3 separate regions of the Homo sapiens genome follow, and all the other regions are reported to be linked to region 2. The links are microRNA targets in miRTarBase. Many come from high-throughput screens and were not tested one by one. Region 2 holds a microRNA gene; each other region holds the end of a gene's coding sequence. Distances are between the middles of the regions.

Region 1 (3,000 bases), not on the chromosome of region 2:
GGGCAGAAGATGGGCAGTCGGCATCAAGGCACCCTGAGCCCGTGCCCGAAGAGGGCTCGGAGGATGAGCTACCCCCTCAGGTGCACAAGGTAAGGGCCCCGGGGCCTAGGAAAAACTGCCAGAAATAGTAACTTCCAGGGTGAGGTAACAGCTTTTCAGGGGAAGGAAGATATGCCCCACCCCCACACAGAGATACTGTACCCTCCCTTCCAAAACACACTACCCCTTCTTTTCTCAACTGCTCTGCAGGGCTTGGTTTTTCCTTACCTTACCTCCCCAGGAATCAACCTTTCCTGTCCCTTTACCTCTAGGTTTCTATGGGGCTAGCAGGTATCAACCAGAAGCTGAAGACTATCTCCATTACCAACCCTTTCTCCCCACAGGTATAGACAAGGCTGAGCAGGGTTCCTGTGGCCCAGGATGGAGGCCACCGCTGCCCTGCCATCCCGTCTGCCTGCCATGGGACGGCTCCTCTGAGTGTTCCCTGGCCCCACGTGTGTGGTGTTTGTGTGTCTGTGCCTGGCCAAGGGAGGTGCCAACACTGGGCTTGCCACAGCCCCAGGAGAGGAATTTGGGGCCTAGGAACCGAGGGCACACGGGACTCTAGCCTCATCCCCAGGACCCCCTTGGCTCAGAGTGTGGTGCTAGAAACTGGCCCCCAGCCCAGCCCCAGTACTGCCACCTTTACACCTACCCCTGCAAGTCCCCAGAGGGCTGCCCACGATAGAAGCTGCCAAGCAGGGAGAACCTGTGCCAACTGTGGAGTGGGGAGGTTGGGCCTGGACCCTCAACCCCTGCAACCTTCCCTAGCCCCCTCAATAGATGAGCAGGTCAGGCTGTGGCCCTTACCTCACCCGCAGTTCTCGCCCAGTGCTGCAGCCGGCTCACCTCTCTCCGCTTCTTGCACATCACTGGCCTGTGTGTGCTGCTTGCTCCTGTTCTGTTCGCTTGCTCCCGTTCCGTTCGGCTTTTGCTTTGCGTTAGGGTGAAGACCCTAGCGTCCAGCTCCCCTCAACGCTATATTTTGACACTAAAAAAGAAGGTTTCTAAATTGTAGGAGCAGGATGGAAATACTTTGCTGCCCTTGCCATCTTTTAGGATGGGCCCCCAGGAGACTGAGGTCTTCCTGGGCCCTCATTGCTGCTTATCGTACCCCCCATCACCTGCACATGGGACAGACCGGGCTGGAGGGTGACCTTGGCTGTGTGCGTCCCAGCAAAAGAGCTCTGGCCCGCATCTCGCTGTGCCCTGAAGGGGGATGAAGGGCGATGCCTCGCCCGAGGCTTTGGGCTGCTGCACTGCATGCTGGGACTGCTCCTACTCTCTGTCCCACCCCTCACCCAGCTGTGGTCCGGCTTTGGGAGAGTGGTGAATTGCGCTGCCCGAACTCGGAGCGGAGCAGGGTAGGGACCGTGTACAGCTTGATAACCCTTAATAAAAAGGGAGTTTGACCAGACTTCTTGTTGTCTCGCGCGGCTAGAATCCTGGGAACAAGAGAAATGGGATGGGGACTCTGCCGGGGTCTAGAAGAAAGTATGTTTAGGCCGTCGCTCAGATACGCTGAGCAAGGCGGCTGGCGGAAGGGCAGCTTCCGACCCACAGTTCCGTGGAGGTCTGTGTCCTGCCCCGAGCCAGGATTCCGTGAGGTCTGTTTCCAGCCCCGAGCCACGATTCCGTGGAGGTTTCCAGCTCGGCCTGGTCGTCAGATTTCCCGCCCTGGGCACGTGACCAAGCCGGCTCTGCTTCTCTAATTTGCATTCGTTGCCTGCACCATTCCCCCCGCTCCCCCCTCGGAGACATTTGGCCAATGGGAGCCGTGGGTAGGGGCTGTGGGCGGGGCTACAGCCGTGGAGCGCGGTGCGAGTCCAACACCGAGCATTCCCGTGGGCCTGCAGTTGGCAGGAGGGTCCCGGGCCCAGAGCCAGCGGGGCCGTGCTGAGACGGCGTACGTGCCCTGCGTGAGTGCGTGGCGGCGGCGCGTGCGCTAGGGGAGTGGGCGGTGAGGCCTGGTCCACGTGCGTCCCTTCCCGGGACCCCCGCAGCTTGGCGCCCAGCGGCTACGTGAGCCAAGGCACCCGGATGTCCGCGCCCCTCTCCGAGTGACCAGTCCCGGCCTCCGGTCCCGCAGTGCCCGCAGCCTCGGCCGGCGTCCACGCATTGCCATGGTGACTGTGGGCAACTACTGCGAGGCCGAAGGGCCCGTGGGTCCGGCCTGGATGCAGGATGGCCTGAGTCCCTGCTTCTTCTTCACGCTCGTGCCCTCGACGCGGATGGCTCTGGGGACTCTGGCCTTGGTGCTGGCTCTTCCCTGCAGACGCCGGGAGCGGCCCGCTGGTGCTGATTCGCTGTCTTGGGGGGCCGGCCCTCGCATCTCTCCCTACGTGCTGCAGCTGCTTCTGGCCACACTTCAGGCGGCGCTGCCCCTGGCCGGCCTGGCTGGCCGGGTGGGCACTGCCCGGGGGGCCCCACTGCCAAGCTATCTACTTCTGGCCTCCGTGCTGGAGAGTCTGGCCGGCGCCTGTGGCCTGTGGCTGCTTGTCGTGGAGCGGAGCCAGGCACGGCAGCGTCTGGCAATGGGCATCTGGATCAAGTTCAGGCACAGCCCTGGTCTCCTGCTCCTCTGGACTGTGGCGTTTGCAGCTGAGAACTTGGCCCTGGTGTCTTGGAACAGCCCACAGTGGTGGTGGGCAAGGGCAGACTTGGGCCAGCAGGTGAGGGACTCTGTGGGAAGGGGGAAGCCTCTGCTGGCCGGGCTTGGGAGAAAGCACTGCATGTCCAGTCACACTGCTTCCAGGCTTTAGGATGCCTCTAAGCAAAGGGAGAAGGGAGGGGCTGAGTCCTGCCGGGAGCTGATAGCCAGCTGGTGGGGTGTGTCTTTGCTGAGTCACTGTGGTTTTGCTTTTTTTTTTTTTTTTAAGCCTGTAAGTGCTGAATGTGTTCATGACACCAGTCCCCGGCCCTATTATAAGTAGTAATACAATGAAATTTTATCCTCAATGA
Region 2 (8,088 bases):
CCGCGAATTGCATGGGGTGCGCAGCCAAGCCTGACCTTTCAGAATGAAACTGAGAGCCCCAGTGGGGTAGGCTTCTCATTTCACAAGGTGACTAAGGGAACCGGGGAGTTTCCTGTCTAGGATGGGACAGAAGTCCCCTGCACCCAGGCAGGGATGTATGGCCTGGGAAGCCCCCACACGGGAGTCCCCAGGAAGGCCCAGGCTGGGCAGGCTCAGCTGGGGCTGGAGCAGTGGACAAGACAGCCCCCCGTGCATGTCACAGAGTGCCAGGTACGCCAGCCTGTGACGGTCTCAGGACATGCCCTCAACACTAGGTCCAGGGCAGGCCAAGCCCCTCCAGCTGGACAAGTGGGTCCAGCCCCTCAGACTGTCGCATGATGTGGCCCCTCCCCTCAGACTGCCCGGGACGGGGCCAGATTCCTCAGAACCACCCCTCCATGATGTGGTCTCTCAGATGCCCCCAGGACAGGACTGTCCTCTCCCACGAGGCCTCAGGCCAAAGAAGGTCCCCTGACCCTGGGCGGGGTCCAGGCTCCGCTTCGGCTACCAGCCAGGCTGGACTGCGGTTCCTCCACTCGGGGGCACTCCTGTCTCGCCCCGCTGTCCAGCAGACAGTCACTAGCTTGTCCTTGTCCCTTGGGGGCAGGGACGAGGATTTCACAGAGCTGCCTTGTGGCTCTGGGGGGACTCTCTGGTGACGCTGGGGGATGCCTGCCCTCTATAGCCCCCAAGAGCAAGGCTCTCCCCACACTGAGGAACTATCTGGCCTTGGAGGCCTTGAGGCGATGAGGACGGGGCGTCCTGGTCCACAGCTGGGGAGGGTCAGGTTGCCCTCTCAGACCTTGGGTTCGACATATCCAGATGTTGGAGCCCAGCTCTGCAGGGGTGTACCCTCCCTGGGGTCACACTGCATTTTTGGCTGCAGTGCCTGTCCTTGGCCCAGCTGCCCGGGGGTGCCCACCCGCCCAGGCGTGCCCACCCCATGTCCACACCTAGAAGGCAAGTCTGCCTGCCGCCACCCTGTCCCACAGACACCCTGGCTGCCCTCTCAGTCTGCCCCTGTGTAGCCCAGGCCCCCATCAGGATGACCCTACCCCCAGTCTGTTCCCCATGAGCGACCAGGCCGTGTCTCCCACGGAAAGAACCATTCACCAGCTACAGGCAAACTCCATGCCCCTGGGTGGCCATGCCAGGCCCTCCTGGCCTGGTTGAACTCACTTCCCATCCCACCAGCTTTCCCAGCTCTTCCCAGTTTTGGAAGGTGTCAGAGCCCTGGCACATGCCCCTCCTAGCATCACCCAACCGCCCTGCTCCTCTGCAGACCTTCAAAGGCCTGCCCAGCCCGCGGTGGGAGGCCGCTGCCCAGGGCTCTGGCAGCACCTGCCATGGACAGGGCCAGTCCTGGAGCCCCGCCTGGCCCATCGGAGCCTCCCTCGCTTCTCTGTGTGCTGAGCTGAGTTGGGAAGGGCAGGGATGACCTGAGGGGCTGCTCTGGCAGGGTTCCTTCTGGCCATCTGTCCCTGGAGACCCTCAGAGCTCCAGATTCTGAAGGAGGAAGGGGCTGGAGGCCCCCGGCAGCCCCCTGGAAGTCTTCATCTGAGCAGCAGGAGCCCATGGGATGGAACCCCCCAGGCAGCCAGGCCCTTGGGCAGCCCTCCCGCCCACCTGCCCTCCGAGCCAAGGCCAGGCACCACCTGGAGGATGTGCAATGCTCCACGCTGGGGCAGGTGGCCCTGAGAGCCCCCAGCGGTGCCCACGACTGCTCAGGAAAGAGGGCAGAGCTGGGGACAGTTGGGGAAGCCACCTCAGCCCCAGCCCTAGCCCCACAGGGGCTGCTGAGGGAGGTTAGGATTGAGGGCTAAGCCCTGGGGCTCCCTCCCTACACCTTCCTGTGGTCAAGACCTGATGTCTGGACCCAGGATCCCTGGGGAGGTCCCCTTCCTCCTGCCCTGGGTAAGGGGTCTGAGGCATCTGGAAGTTTCCCAGGGAAGCAGAAGGATGTCTTCTTCCTCGTGGGCTGGCAGGCGCTGCTGTCCACCGACACCCAGCTGGGCTGGTCGCACAAGTGGGAGCATCACAGGCCCCACCCCCGCTGATTCTGGAAGCCAGAATCCTTTCTTCCTGCGCCCCCTTCCTGGTTCCCTCGTGTCTCCTAAAACAATCCTGGAGCCACACAAGGGCAGTGCCAGGAGGGTCTGGGGTCCAGCTGGGACAGGCCCTGGCCGGTGACACCCTGGGGTGGCAGGATGGTGGGCCTCTGCTCCGCTACCCTACGGGCCAGCCTGTCTCCACCTCAGTTCCCTGAGAACGTGCCAGAGGGATGGGTGAGCCCTAGAGAAGAGGAGGGTGTTGGCAGTGGAAAGGGCCCAGTGGTCTCCCGCTCTGAGTCCTCAGCCTGGTGAGGGGTGGGGGCGTGAGCTCTGCCTTGCAGTCCCAGCCCCTGAGATCCCACTGCTGGGGCGGCGGGAGGGGGATGGGCTGCAAGGCCCCAGGGCTGGCCTTGCTTCGGCTGCTATAGGCCCTCGGAGTGCTTTCTGGATGAGTAAGCCGCACCCCTCTGAAGCCTCAGTTTCCCCATCTGCACACTCAGAATGTAGCCACTCAGACCAAGCGTTCACTCCATGCCAGTCTTTGCCAAGCTATTTATTTATTTATTTGAGACAGAGTCTCGCTCTGTTGCCCAGACTGTAGTGCAGTGACACAATCTCGGCTCACTGGAACCTCCGCCCTCCAGGTTCAAGAGATTCTCCCACCTCAGCCTCCTGAGTAGCTGGGATTACAGGCACCTGCCACTGCCCCCGGCTAATTTTTGTATTTTTAGTAGAGAAGAGGCTTTCACCATGTTGGCCAGGCTGGTCTTGAACTCCTGACCTCAGGTGATCCACCCGCCCCAGCCTCCCAAAGTCCTGGGATTACAAGCATGAACCACCGCGCCCTGCCTTTGCCAAGCTTTTTAAACCAAGGCTCTTGTTTCATCCCCCGGAGCTGTGAGGCAGGTCCCTGGAGCCTCCCATTTCACAGACGGAAACCGAGGCTCACAGGGGCCAAGTGCATTGTCCAAGGGCTGCTCCCTGCCTGGGGAGGGGCCTGAGTCCTTGCCCCTGTGGGGTTCGGGTGCTGAGGGCCCACAAGACCTGCGGGCACCAGGAGGGAGCTGGGCTGGGCTGCCCTTCCCGGGGTCTCTCTGACCCCACACCACACACCAGCCACTCTGGACTCAAAGGCTCCCAAGAGCACCAGAGCACTGCTCATGGCCCAAGCTCAGCAAGCACTTAAAGGGACCGTCCCGAAAAGCGGAACTGGGACCGGGCGCTGCAGGACCAGCAAGGTCCTCCACTTCCCTCCAGCCCAGCCCCGCCCAAATCCCAGCCCTCAGCATCTTTTTGGGGGCCACTAAAGACCTTCTGGGAGATGGCAGCCCAGGACCATAAGGCAATCGAAGAGGGCTTTCCACATGCGCTGAGGCAGACAGAACCAGGCCCTGGCTGTGGACGAGGCTGTATTGATACTTAGAAGAGAGGGAAGCGAGCGGGCTGGAGAGGCTCGGCCAGGGGGCAGCCCAGCAGGGCCCCTTCCCCAGGGTTAGACTCTCTACAGCCGGCCCAGCCCCCATCCCCTCCCCAACATCTAGGGACCTGAAAAGAGGTTGGAGGGGCTGCATGGGGGTGGGGTTGATAGGAGATTAGGGGATTGAGAAAGCCAGGCCTCCTAGCCGTGTCCCACCCAGCACGGCCCCACCAGTGCCAGACACAGGCAGACAAGGGAGGAGGGAGATGCTGAGCAGGGGTGGCAGGAGGAAAGCCCCTGGCCCTTTCTTGGGGCCAGGCAAGTCCTATCCTAACTCCATCTGCTAACTGCCTCCAAGCTGCTTGTGGGTTGTCGGGGAAGGGAGTTTGTGGCAGGGAGGGCCTCTGAGTCCCCTGTATCCCCCGGCAGGAGGAGGCAGGCACATGGGCCCCTGACCTCAGTGCTTGGAGCAGGGCCGCTCTGGTGGGGCATTTGTAGGTCACAGCATGAAGGGTTCCAGCATACTTCCTGGGTTCCCAGTTTCCCTGGGAGCAGTGGTATAGACGCAGGGGCCTCTACACACACCACACGCTCAGGGAGAGTGGCTGAGGTGTCCAGGATACTCTGTCCACTGGGGCAGGGGGTGGCTTCTAAGCCCAGTACCCTTCCCAGAGTCCCCAGTCTCCAGCTGCTCATGGGCTGCAGATGAGGATTCAAGGTTATGCAGGGGTCACTCTCCTGCTCCATCCCTGGCAGGTGGGACCTCACCTACTGCTTCTTTCTGCTCCAGAGAAGAGCACGTCCCCCTCATCTCAAAAGTGCCTGTGCTCCTCCTTCCTGAGTGGAACCTACACTTTTGACAGTTTGGTTTCTGAGGCAAGGCTGCCTCCTCCTCCTGTCCCAGGTACCTCCCCTCAGAAAAGCAATGGGACTTGGGATAGAAGGATCTAGCCAATTCGTTCCAGATGAATCTAGAAATAATCCTTTAGCCTTTCTCTTAGACCCAGTCCCAACCAAAATCTGAGCTTCATCACCACCACCCAGCACCCACCATTCACCACCCAGCCTCCAGCCCCCAGCCCCCAGCCCCCAGCCCCCAGCACCCATGACCCACCACCCTGCCCCCTACCCGTGGCTCTGGCCCATTCTCCTGCTGTCAGCAGTGCCTGCTTGAACAGAGGGCCACACTGAACAGATGCATGCTGCAAGCATTTGGAGGCTGCCTCCTCTTTAAATCACAGACATTTATCCACCAGGGATCACTCGGGAGCCAATGAGGCCACCACCCTGACCTCCCCTGTCCCCATGGGCTCTCTCAGTGCTCAAAGCACCTTTCACTGGGATGCTGCTCTGTGAACATACATTCGCAGGTATGTGTCGGGGATGATGAGAATGTGTCAATATGAAGACAGATCCCTGCCCCTGTAGCCCCTGCTTAGGCTCTATTGAGGTGTTCAGCCTCCTGGGCCATGGTGGTCTGCTTTATCCTTGGGCCATGAGCTTATGAACCATGTCTTAGTTGCATAAGAAAGGAAAAATAAAGATTAGAAAAGAATCAATTATGGAGAACAGTATGAATGAATGGAAAGATGAATGAAGAATGATAGGAAGTAGGAACAAATGGATGGATGGATGGATGGATAATTGAATGATGGATGGATGGATAATTGAATGATGGATGGATGGGTGGATGGATGGAGGGATGAGTGGATGGATAGGTGCATGGATCGATGGACAGGTGGGTGAATGGATGGGCAGATGGATGGGGTGGATGAATGAATGGGTTGGATGGACTCATGTATAAATAGAGTATAACTCATGCATAAATAGAAAGAATTATTTAGTAATTGATGAATGGATGAACAAATGAGCAGATGAACAAAAAATAGATGGATGGACAGAAGAACATCTGTATGTATATATGGATGTTTGGATGAAAGAACGAATGGATGGGTGGATAGATAAATGCAGATGTGATATTTAGAATATTTAACAAAGCATGTGGTACAAATATGAATCTACTGGAATGGGTGCTGATTATATATATTCCTATATTGAACTGTGTTGTACCTGTGCATATTGGCTGATCATCAGCCCAACAGCTAAATGAGCAAATGTACCAAAACAAAAGATGAGTGGATTTATGGATGAATGGATGATGGATGAATGGGTGTATAAATGGGTAAATGAATGTATTGATGGAAGGACACATGAGATGGAATTATGTATGGGTGGATGATTGGATGGCTGGAATATGGACATATAAATGATTGGAAAGATTAATAGAAGGATGTCAGGAGAAGTAGACATATGGATGGATATGGATAATAGATGAATAGATGGATACGTGGGTGGATATAACAAGAGATGAGTAGAAAGATAGATAGATAATGAATCAATAGACAATTGAATCCGTGCTGAGTAAACTATTAGAAAGACGGATGTGTGAGTAGACACTACTAAATCAGGAATTTTGCACTCTCTTCCAGGAACACTTCCTCCCATTTCTCTCATCTCTTTTCAAATAAGAAAAGAATTACTTCTTTCCATGAGGCTTTCATATATAAAGACCCAAGGAAAGAATTACTTATTTCCATGAGGCTATCATACGTAAAATATCAATCCCCTCCAGAACTCCATATGCCTTTACCCTGATTTATATTTTCTGTCATATTTTCCATCATCTGACCTTTATTTATTTATGTGTTTGTTCCCACACTTGAAACATGATCATCATAAGAGCAGGGACTTTGTTAATGCTGAATCCCCAGCACCTTCAAAGTGTCTGAATTCAGTACAGATTTATTGAATAAATATATGGAAGGATGGAGAGACAGATGGATAGACAGATGGATGAATGAATGGATGGATGGATAGATGGGTGGATGGATGGATGGGTGGATGGATAGATGCATGGATGAATGGATGGATAGATGGATAATGGATAGATAAATAGATGAATGGTTGGATGGATGGATGAATGGATGGGTAAATGGATGGATGGATAGGTGAATAGATGGATAAGTGAATGGATGGATGGATGGATAGATGGGTGGATGGGTGGATGGGTGGGTGGATGGATGGATGGATGGATGGATGGATGGATGGATGGATGGATTGGTGGATGAGTGGATGAGTGGATGGGTGGATGGATGGATGGGTGGATGGATAGATGGATGGATGAATAGATGGATGGGTGAATGGATGGATGGATGGATGGATTGATGAGTGGATGGATGGATGGGTGGATGGATAGATGGATGAATAGATGGATGGGTGAACGGATGGATGGATGGATGGATGGATGGATTGATGAGTGGATGGATGGGTGGATGGATAGATGGATGGATGAATAGATGGATGGGTGAATGGATGGGTGGATGGATGGATGAGTGGATGGATGGATGGATGAATGGATGGATGAATGGATGGATGAGTGGATGGGTGGATGGACGGATGCATGGATGAGTGGATAAATGGATGGATGAATAGATGGGTGGGTGGATGGGTAAAATGGATGGATGAACTGATGGATGAATGGAGAGATGGACAGAGAGATGGATGGATGAGTAGATGGATGGATGAGTGGGTGAATGGATGAGCGCACACATAACAGTGGAGTTGACATCAAATACTCTCCCATATTGTCCCTCACAGGACATGCTCTAGTTGTAAAACCATGAATCTTGGCCGCTACATGTAAATATCTGTTCTTGTCACTTCCCATCCATCAGCATTTCTGACAGATGATCATTCTCTAGTGACAGGGAAGTCCTGCCATTCCAAGGTAGCTCTTTTCCCTGTGGGAATATTCTTCCTTCTTTTGAACTAAAATATGCCTTGGCCACATTTCATTCCTGGCTGTCTGTGGCTGGGACTCCTCCAGAAGTTAAAACAGGAGGCAAGGAGGAAATAGGCAGGTTGAGGTGCAAATGAAGCACATGCTCACTGCCCCCCACCCCAGGTAATCTCACCTTACCTGGGTGATCTGTCCTCCCTGAGTGATCTCAGTTTCTCTGTGTGATCTTCCCTACCCCTGGTAATCTCACCTCCCCTGAGTGATTTAGCTTTCCCTGGGTGATCTCACCTCCCCTGGGTGACCTCACCTCCCCTGGGTGACCTTACCTCCCCTAGGTAATCTCGCCTCCCCTGGGTGATCTCACCTCCCCTGGGTGATCTCACCTCCCCCAGGTAATCTTGCCTCCTCTGGGTGACCTCCCCTCCCCTGGGTGAGCTCACTAAACATTTGTCCAACCTGAGGTCCAGCCCTGGCTACCATCCCTCCTGCTTACTCCAGAATCCTGTGGTCTCTGCAGCTTTGTGGATGCTGGGGATGTGGGGCCAACACCATGGTCTCTAGTGGACATTCCCTGCTTCCTCCTGGGTTGTGCCGGGGGAGGGGAGATGCTGTGGGCTCCTCTCTCCAGGACTGGCCCTGGGACCCAGTCTGGTGTGTATGTAGGGAGTGGGGACGGACTTCCTGACTCCCGCAGTCTCCATGGGGTAGCCCACCACCTGAGTCACCACAGCCCGGTCTATGGTCCCATGTGGAATTTTCCGACTGTTGCCGCCACCCCCGGC
Region 3 (3,000 bases), 71 Mb from region 2:
AAGGCAAGTGGCCTGGGCACTGAGCAGCAAGGTGGGACGTGCATACCAAGGGGCCAGGCAGTCCAACTGGGTTCCAGAGGTGCCCCTGGTTCACCCAGGGTCTCCAGTATCCACCCCCACCTGTGCCTGCCACAGGATTAGATGGTGAACGAGCCCCTCCTGTGTCCTTGTGGAGTGGCTCGGGCCTGTGGGAAAGGCTCAAGGGTGGTTTGTAACAGGCAATCATTAAGAAAGCTCAAGAGGGGCCGGGTGCGGTGGCTCATACCTGTAATCCCAGCACTTTGGGAGGCTGAGGCAGGTGGATCACTTGAGGTCAGGAGTTTGAGACCAGCCTGGCCAACATGGCGAAACCCTGTCTCTATTAAAAATACAAAAATTAGCCAGGTGTGGTGGCGCATACCTGTAATCCCAGCTACTTGGGAAACTGAGGCAGGAGAATTGCTTGAACCCGGGAGGCAGAGAGTTGCAGTGAGCCAAGACCGCAGCACTGCACTTCCAGCCTGGGTGACAGAACAAGACTTCGTCTCAAAAAGAAAAAAAAAACTCAGAAGGACATCGGCTACATTAACAGAAGTATAGAACCTAGAAGGTGAGAGGTGAATAGCTCACACTATTCTGGGCAGGTCACCCACCTGGCACAGTACAGAGTAATCATTTGGGTCATGGTCTGTGATGGGTCTCTGTCACATGAGGGCGCTGTGGAGTCAGGCTCCAAATACAGCAAGCTTTGGGGATGTCCTGCCTTTCACAAGGCAGAGTGGGAAGGGTGGAGAGGTCAGAGGGGGCAGGCAGAGTGGGCCACAGGGCGAGGGCTCTCCCAGAGGGAGAGGAGGGAGTCCCTGTCCTTGAGATCAAGAGTGAGGCCTGTCAGCTTTGCCCTGTCCCTTTCCAAAGGCTAGGGCGGGGCCCTGTCCAGCTGAGCGCCACACGTCAGCCCAGAGTGGTCCTGGCTAGACTCAGAACCTATCATAGGTGAGACCCATCTCCCCCATACTAAGTCCTGACCCAGCCTGAGCACCACCCTGCCATTCTGGGATTTTCCCAGAAGGCAGACGATGGACAGGAGGAGGAGTGAATCTCTTTCATATTTACCCCCAGTGCAAAGGAAGCCTCAGGGTCAGGGCAAGGAGGGAGCCCTAACTTGGCCTCCTTGTGACCCAGCCCCAACCCTGCCTTGAGCCTGGAGTCAGCTGTCCAGCCTGCTTATGGCTCATGCACACCCTGCCCTCTTGCCCCATGTCTTTGCCTGGGATGCATCCTGTGTGTGGATGTTCTTCCGGTGAGCTGCTTTTCTCAGAAGCTACAGCTCAGGAGTCTCCCACTCCAGGAACCCTTCCCTGACCCCCTGGCTCACAGCCCCAGCCACTCGGCATTATCCAGTGGTGTGCTAGAGTGACTTGTACCTGCTTGCAAGAACCAATTGTTAAATTTTCAGGAATTTTACAAGGAAGTTGACATCATGTTTATAGTTTGAATTTGGCCATAAGAGTTTTTGCACCATGGAAATGGGCAGTTCTACAAAGAAGGGGTTCCCAGTTAAATCGGAGCTCCAGTTAAATGGCTTAACATTTACCAGCACATGACTGGCCATCACCTAAACTGGGAAATCTCAAGGACTGGGACTGCACCTGACTTTTCTCTGTGCTCAGCACAGAGTCAGGCACAGAAGCCAACTGGCTTTACAGTGGGGGATGACCTGGGGCCTGGAGAGAGGATCCCTGATATGAGACTACTCCTGAGACAGCTAGTGAGAAGGCAGGTGGCAGAAGGGAACGGATTGGAGAAAGGACCCTTGTGTGGCTGGTGAAAGCTTCCCTGCCATATCCTCATCCCCCGACCACACAATAGGGCACAGCTCAGCAGGCAACACAACCTTTAGTATAAGTTACAGCCTCACACTGGCTCCTAGCCCATGGGAGCCTCCAGATGGGTCTATGATATTAGTCCCCAGATGTTCATCTCTTGGGCTGGGGGTACTCCTCAGAGCTAAGTCCACCGTGGCACCCAGTCCATTCCAGACCACTGTGCAAACTCAGCCCTCATTACTTACCAGGGTTTTCTGGCCAACCTGTGACTTGGCCCCCACCCCAGGTAGCTCAGCTCCAGACTCTGGTATGTGATCTTGGTAAGCCACCTTCCTCTCTGGGCCTGTTTCTCCATTTGACTTGATTAGGCTGGACTCCAACCTAGGTACCTTGGCAGTACAGCCAGCTACTTGCATGGGAGTCAGGCCAGGGGTGTCATTGACCTTGAGCTCTTGCCTTTCTTGAAACTTAATTCCCCCAACTTATACACACAAACGATGACTAGGGGTTATGGGAACAGTTGACTCTGGACCACAGAGTGAATATCCTGAGCCCCTGTCAAATGACGGAGCATGGGGTCATCCAGCATGAGTCACTGATGGTCCATATCTGGGGAGACTGTGGCGTCTGCACAAGTCCTGGTCCTCTACAGCTTCCCAATATAAACCTGCACAGGCTGAAGTGTTCTGCTCCTACAGCCGAATGTCCTTAGTGTTCTCGCTACCAGCCGGCGTGGACTCTGTCCGCCTAGAGTCCTCACTGCTGCCCAACACATCTTCTATCCTCTGCATGTCAGTTCTGTCGGATCTGCGCAGGCCCAGCCTGCGGCGAGCCGGGGTGGCAGGGCTGGGGCCAGTGGGTGGCTTGGCATCTCGGGCAAAGCGTACGAGCCTCTGCCCAGCCAGGAAGTAGAGCACGGGGTCAAGGCAACTGTTAGCACTGGCCAGCGGCCGGGTAACCTTGTAGGCCATGTTGATGGCGTTGAGGGTGTGGCAGCTGAGGTCCAGCGAGCGGAAGGAGTAGTAGAGGGTGCGGGTGACGTGGAATGGCAGGAAGCAGAGGGCGAAGACAGCCAGCACCACGGCGATGGTGCGCACGGACTTGCGCTTGGCCCTAGGCAGGCCGCCCGAGGTCCCGTAGGCTGGCTTTAGCAGTCGCCGAGCCATGAGCACGTAACAGACAAGGATGACGGCAA

The links. Region 2 holds the annotated microRNA hsa-miR-4298 (CUGGGACAGGAGGAGGAGGCAG, at 4,390-4,411, opposite strand). A microRNA usually pairs through its seed, bases 2 to 8, with sites in the 3' UTR of a target mRNA and lowers its output. Matches are read on the target gene's strand: a 7mer-m8 pairs with bases 2 to 8, a 7mer-A1 pairs with bases 2 to 7 and ends in A, and an 8mer does both.
Region 1: miRTarBase lists ATG9A as a target of hsa-miR-4298. Seed matches in the 3' UTR shown: 7mer-m8 at 1,326-1,332.
Region 3: the mRNA of P2RY2 is a reported target of hsa-miR-4298. The part of its 3' UTR that is shown has no 7-base or 8-base seed match.

What each region holds. Positions count from the first base shown.
Region 1 is chr2:219,217,836-219,220,835 of GRCh38, reverse strand. ATG9A (autophagy related 9A) reads left to right here. Exons shown (of 16, transcript NM_001077198.3): 15 at 1-89; 16 at 384-1,456. The coding sequence ends at 389. ABCB6 (ATP binding cassette subfamily B member 6 (LAN blood group)) reads left to right here and starts at 1,878. Exons shown (of 19, transcript NM_005689.4): 1 at 1,878-2,711. The coding sequence starts at 2,163. RefSeq lists a silencer at 2,439-2,548 and an enhancer at 1,794-2,661.
Region 2 is chr11:1,855,116-1,863,203 of GRCh38, forward strand. MIR4298 (microRNA 4298) reads right to left here and starts at 4,421; the gene lies at 4,349-4,421. The region is part of intron 1 of LSP1 (lymphocyte specific protein 1); the gene reads left to right. RefSeq lists an enhancer at 1-340.
Region 3 is chr11:73,234,791-73,237,790 of GRCh38, reverse strand. It overlaps P2RY2 (purinergic receptor P2Y2), which reads right to left. Exons shown (of 3, transcript NM_002564.4): 3 at 1-3,000. The coding sequence ends at 2,498. Among named protein-coding and RNA genes, the nearest start is that of P2RY2, 18 kb to the right of the region's middle. RefSeq lists an enhancer at 533-582.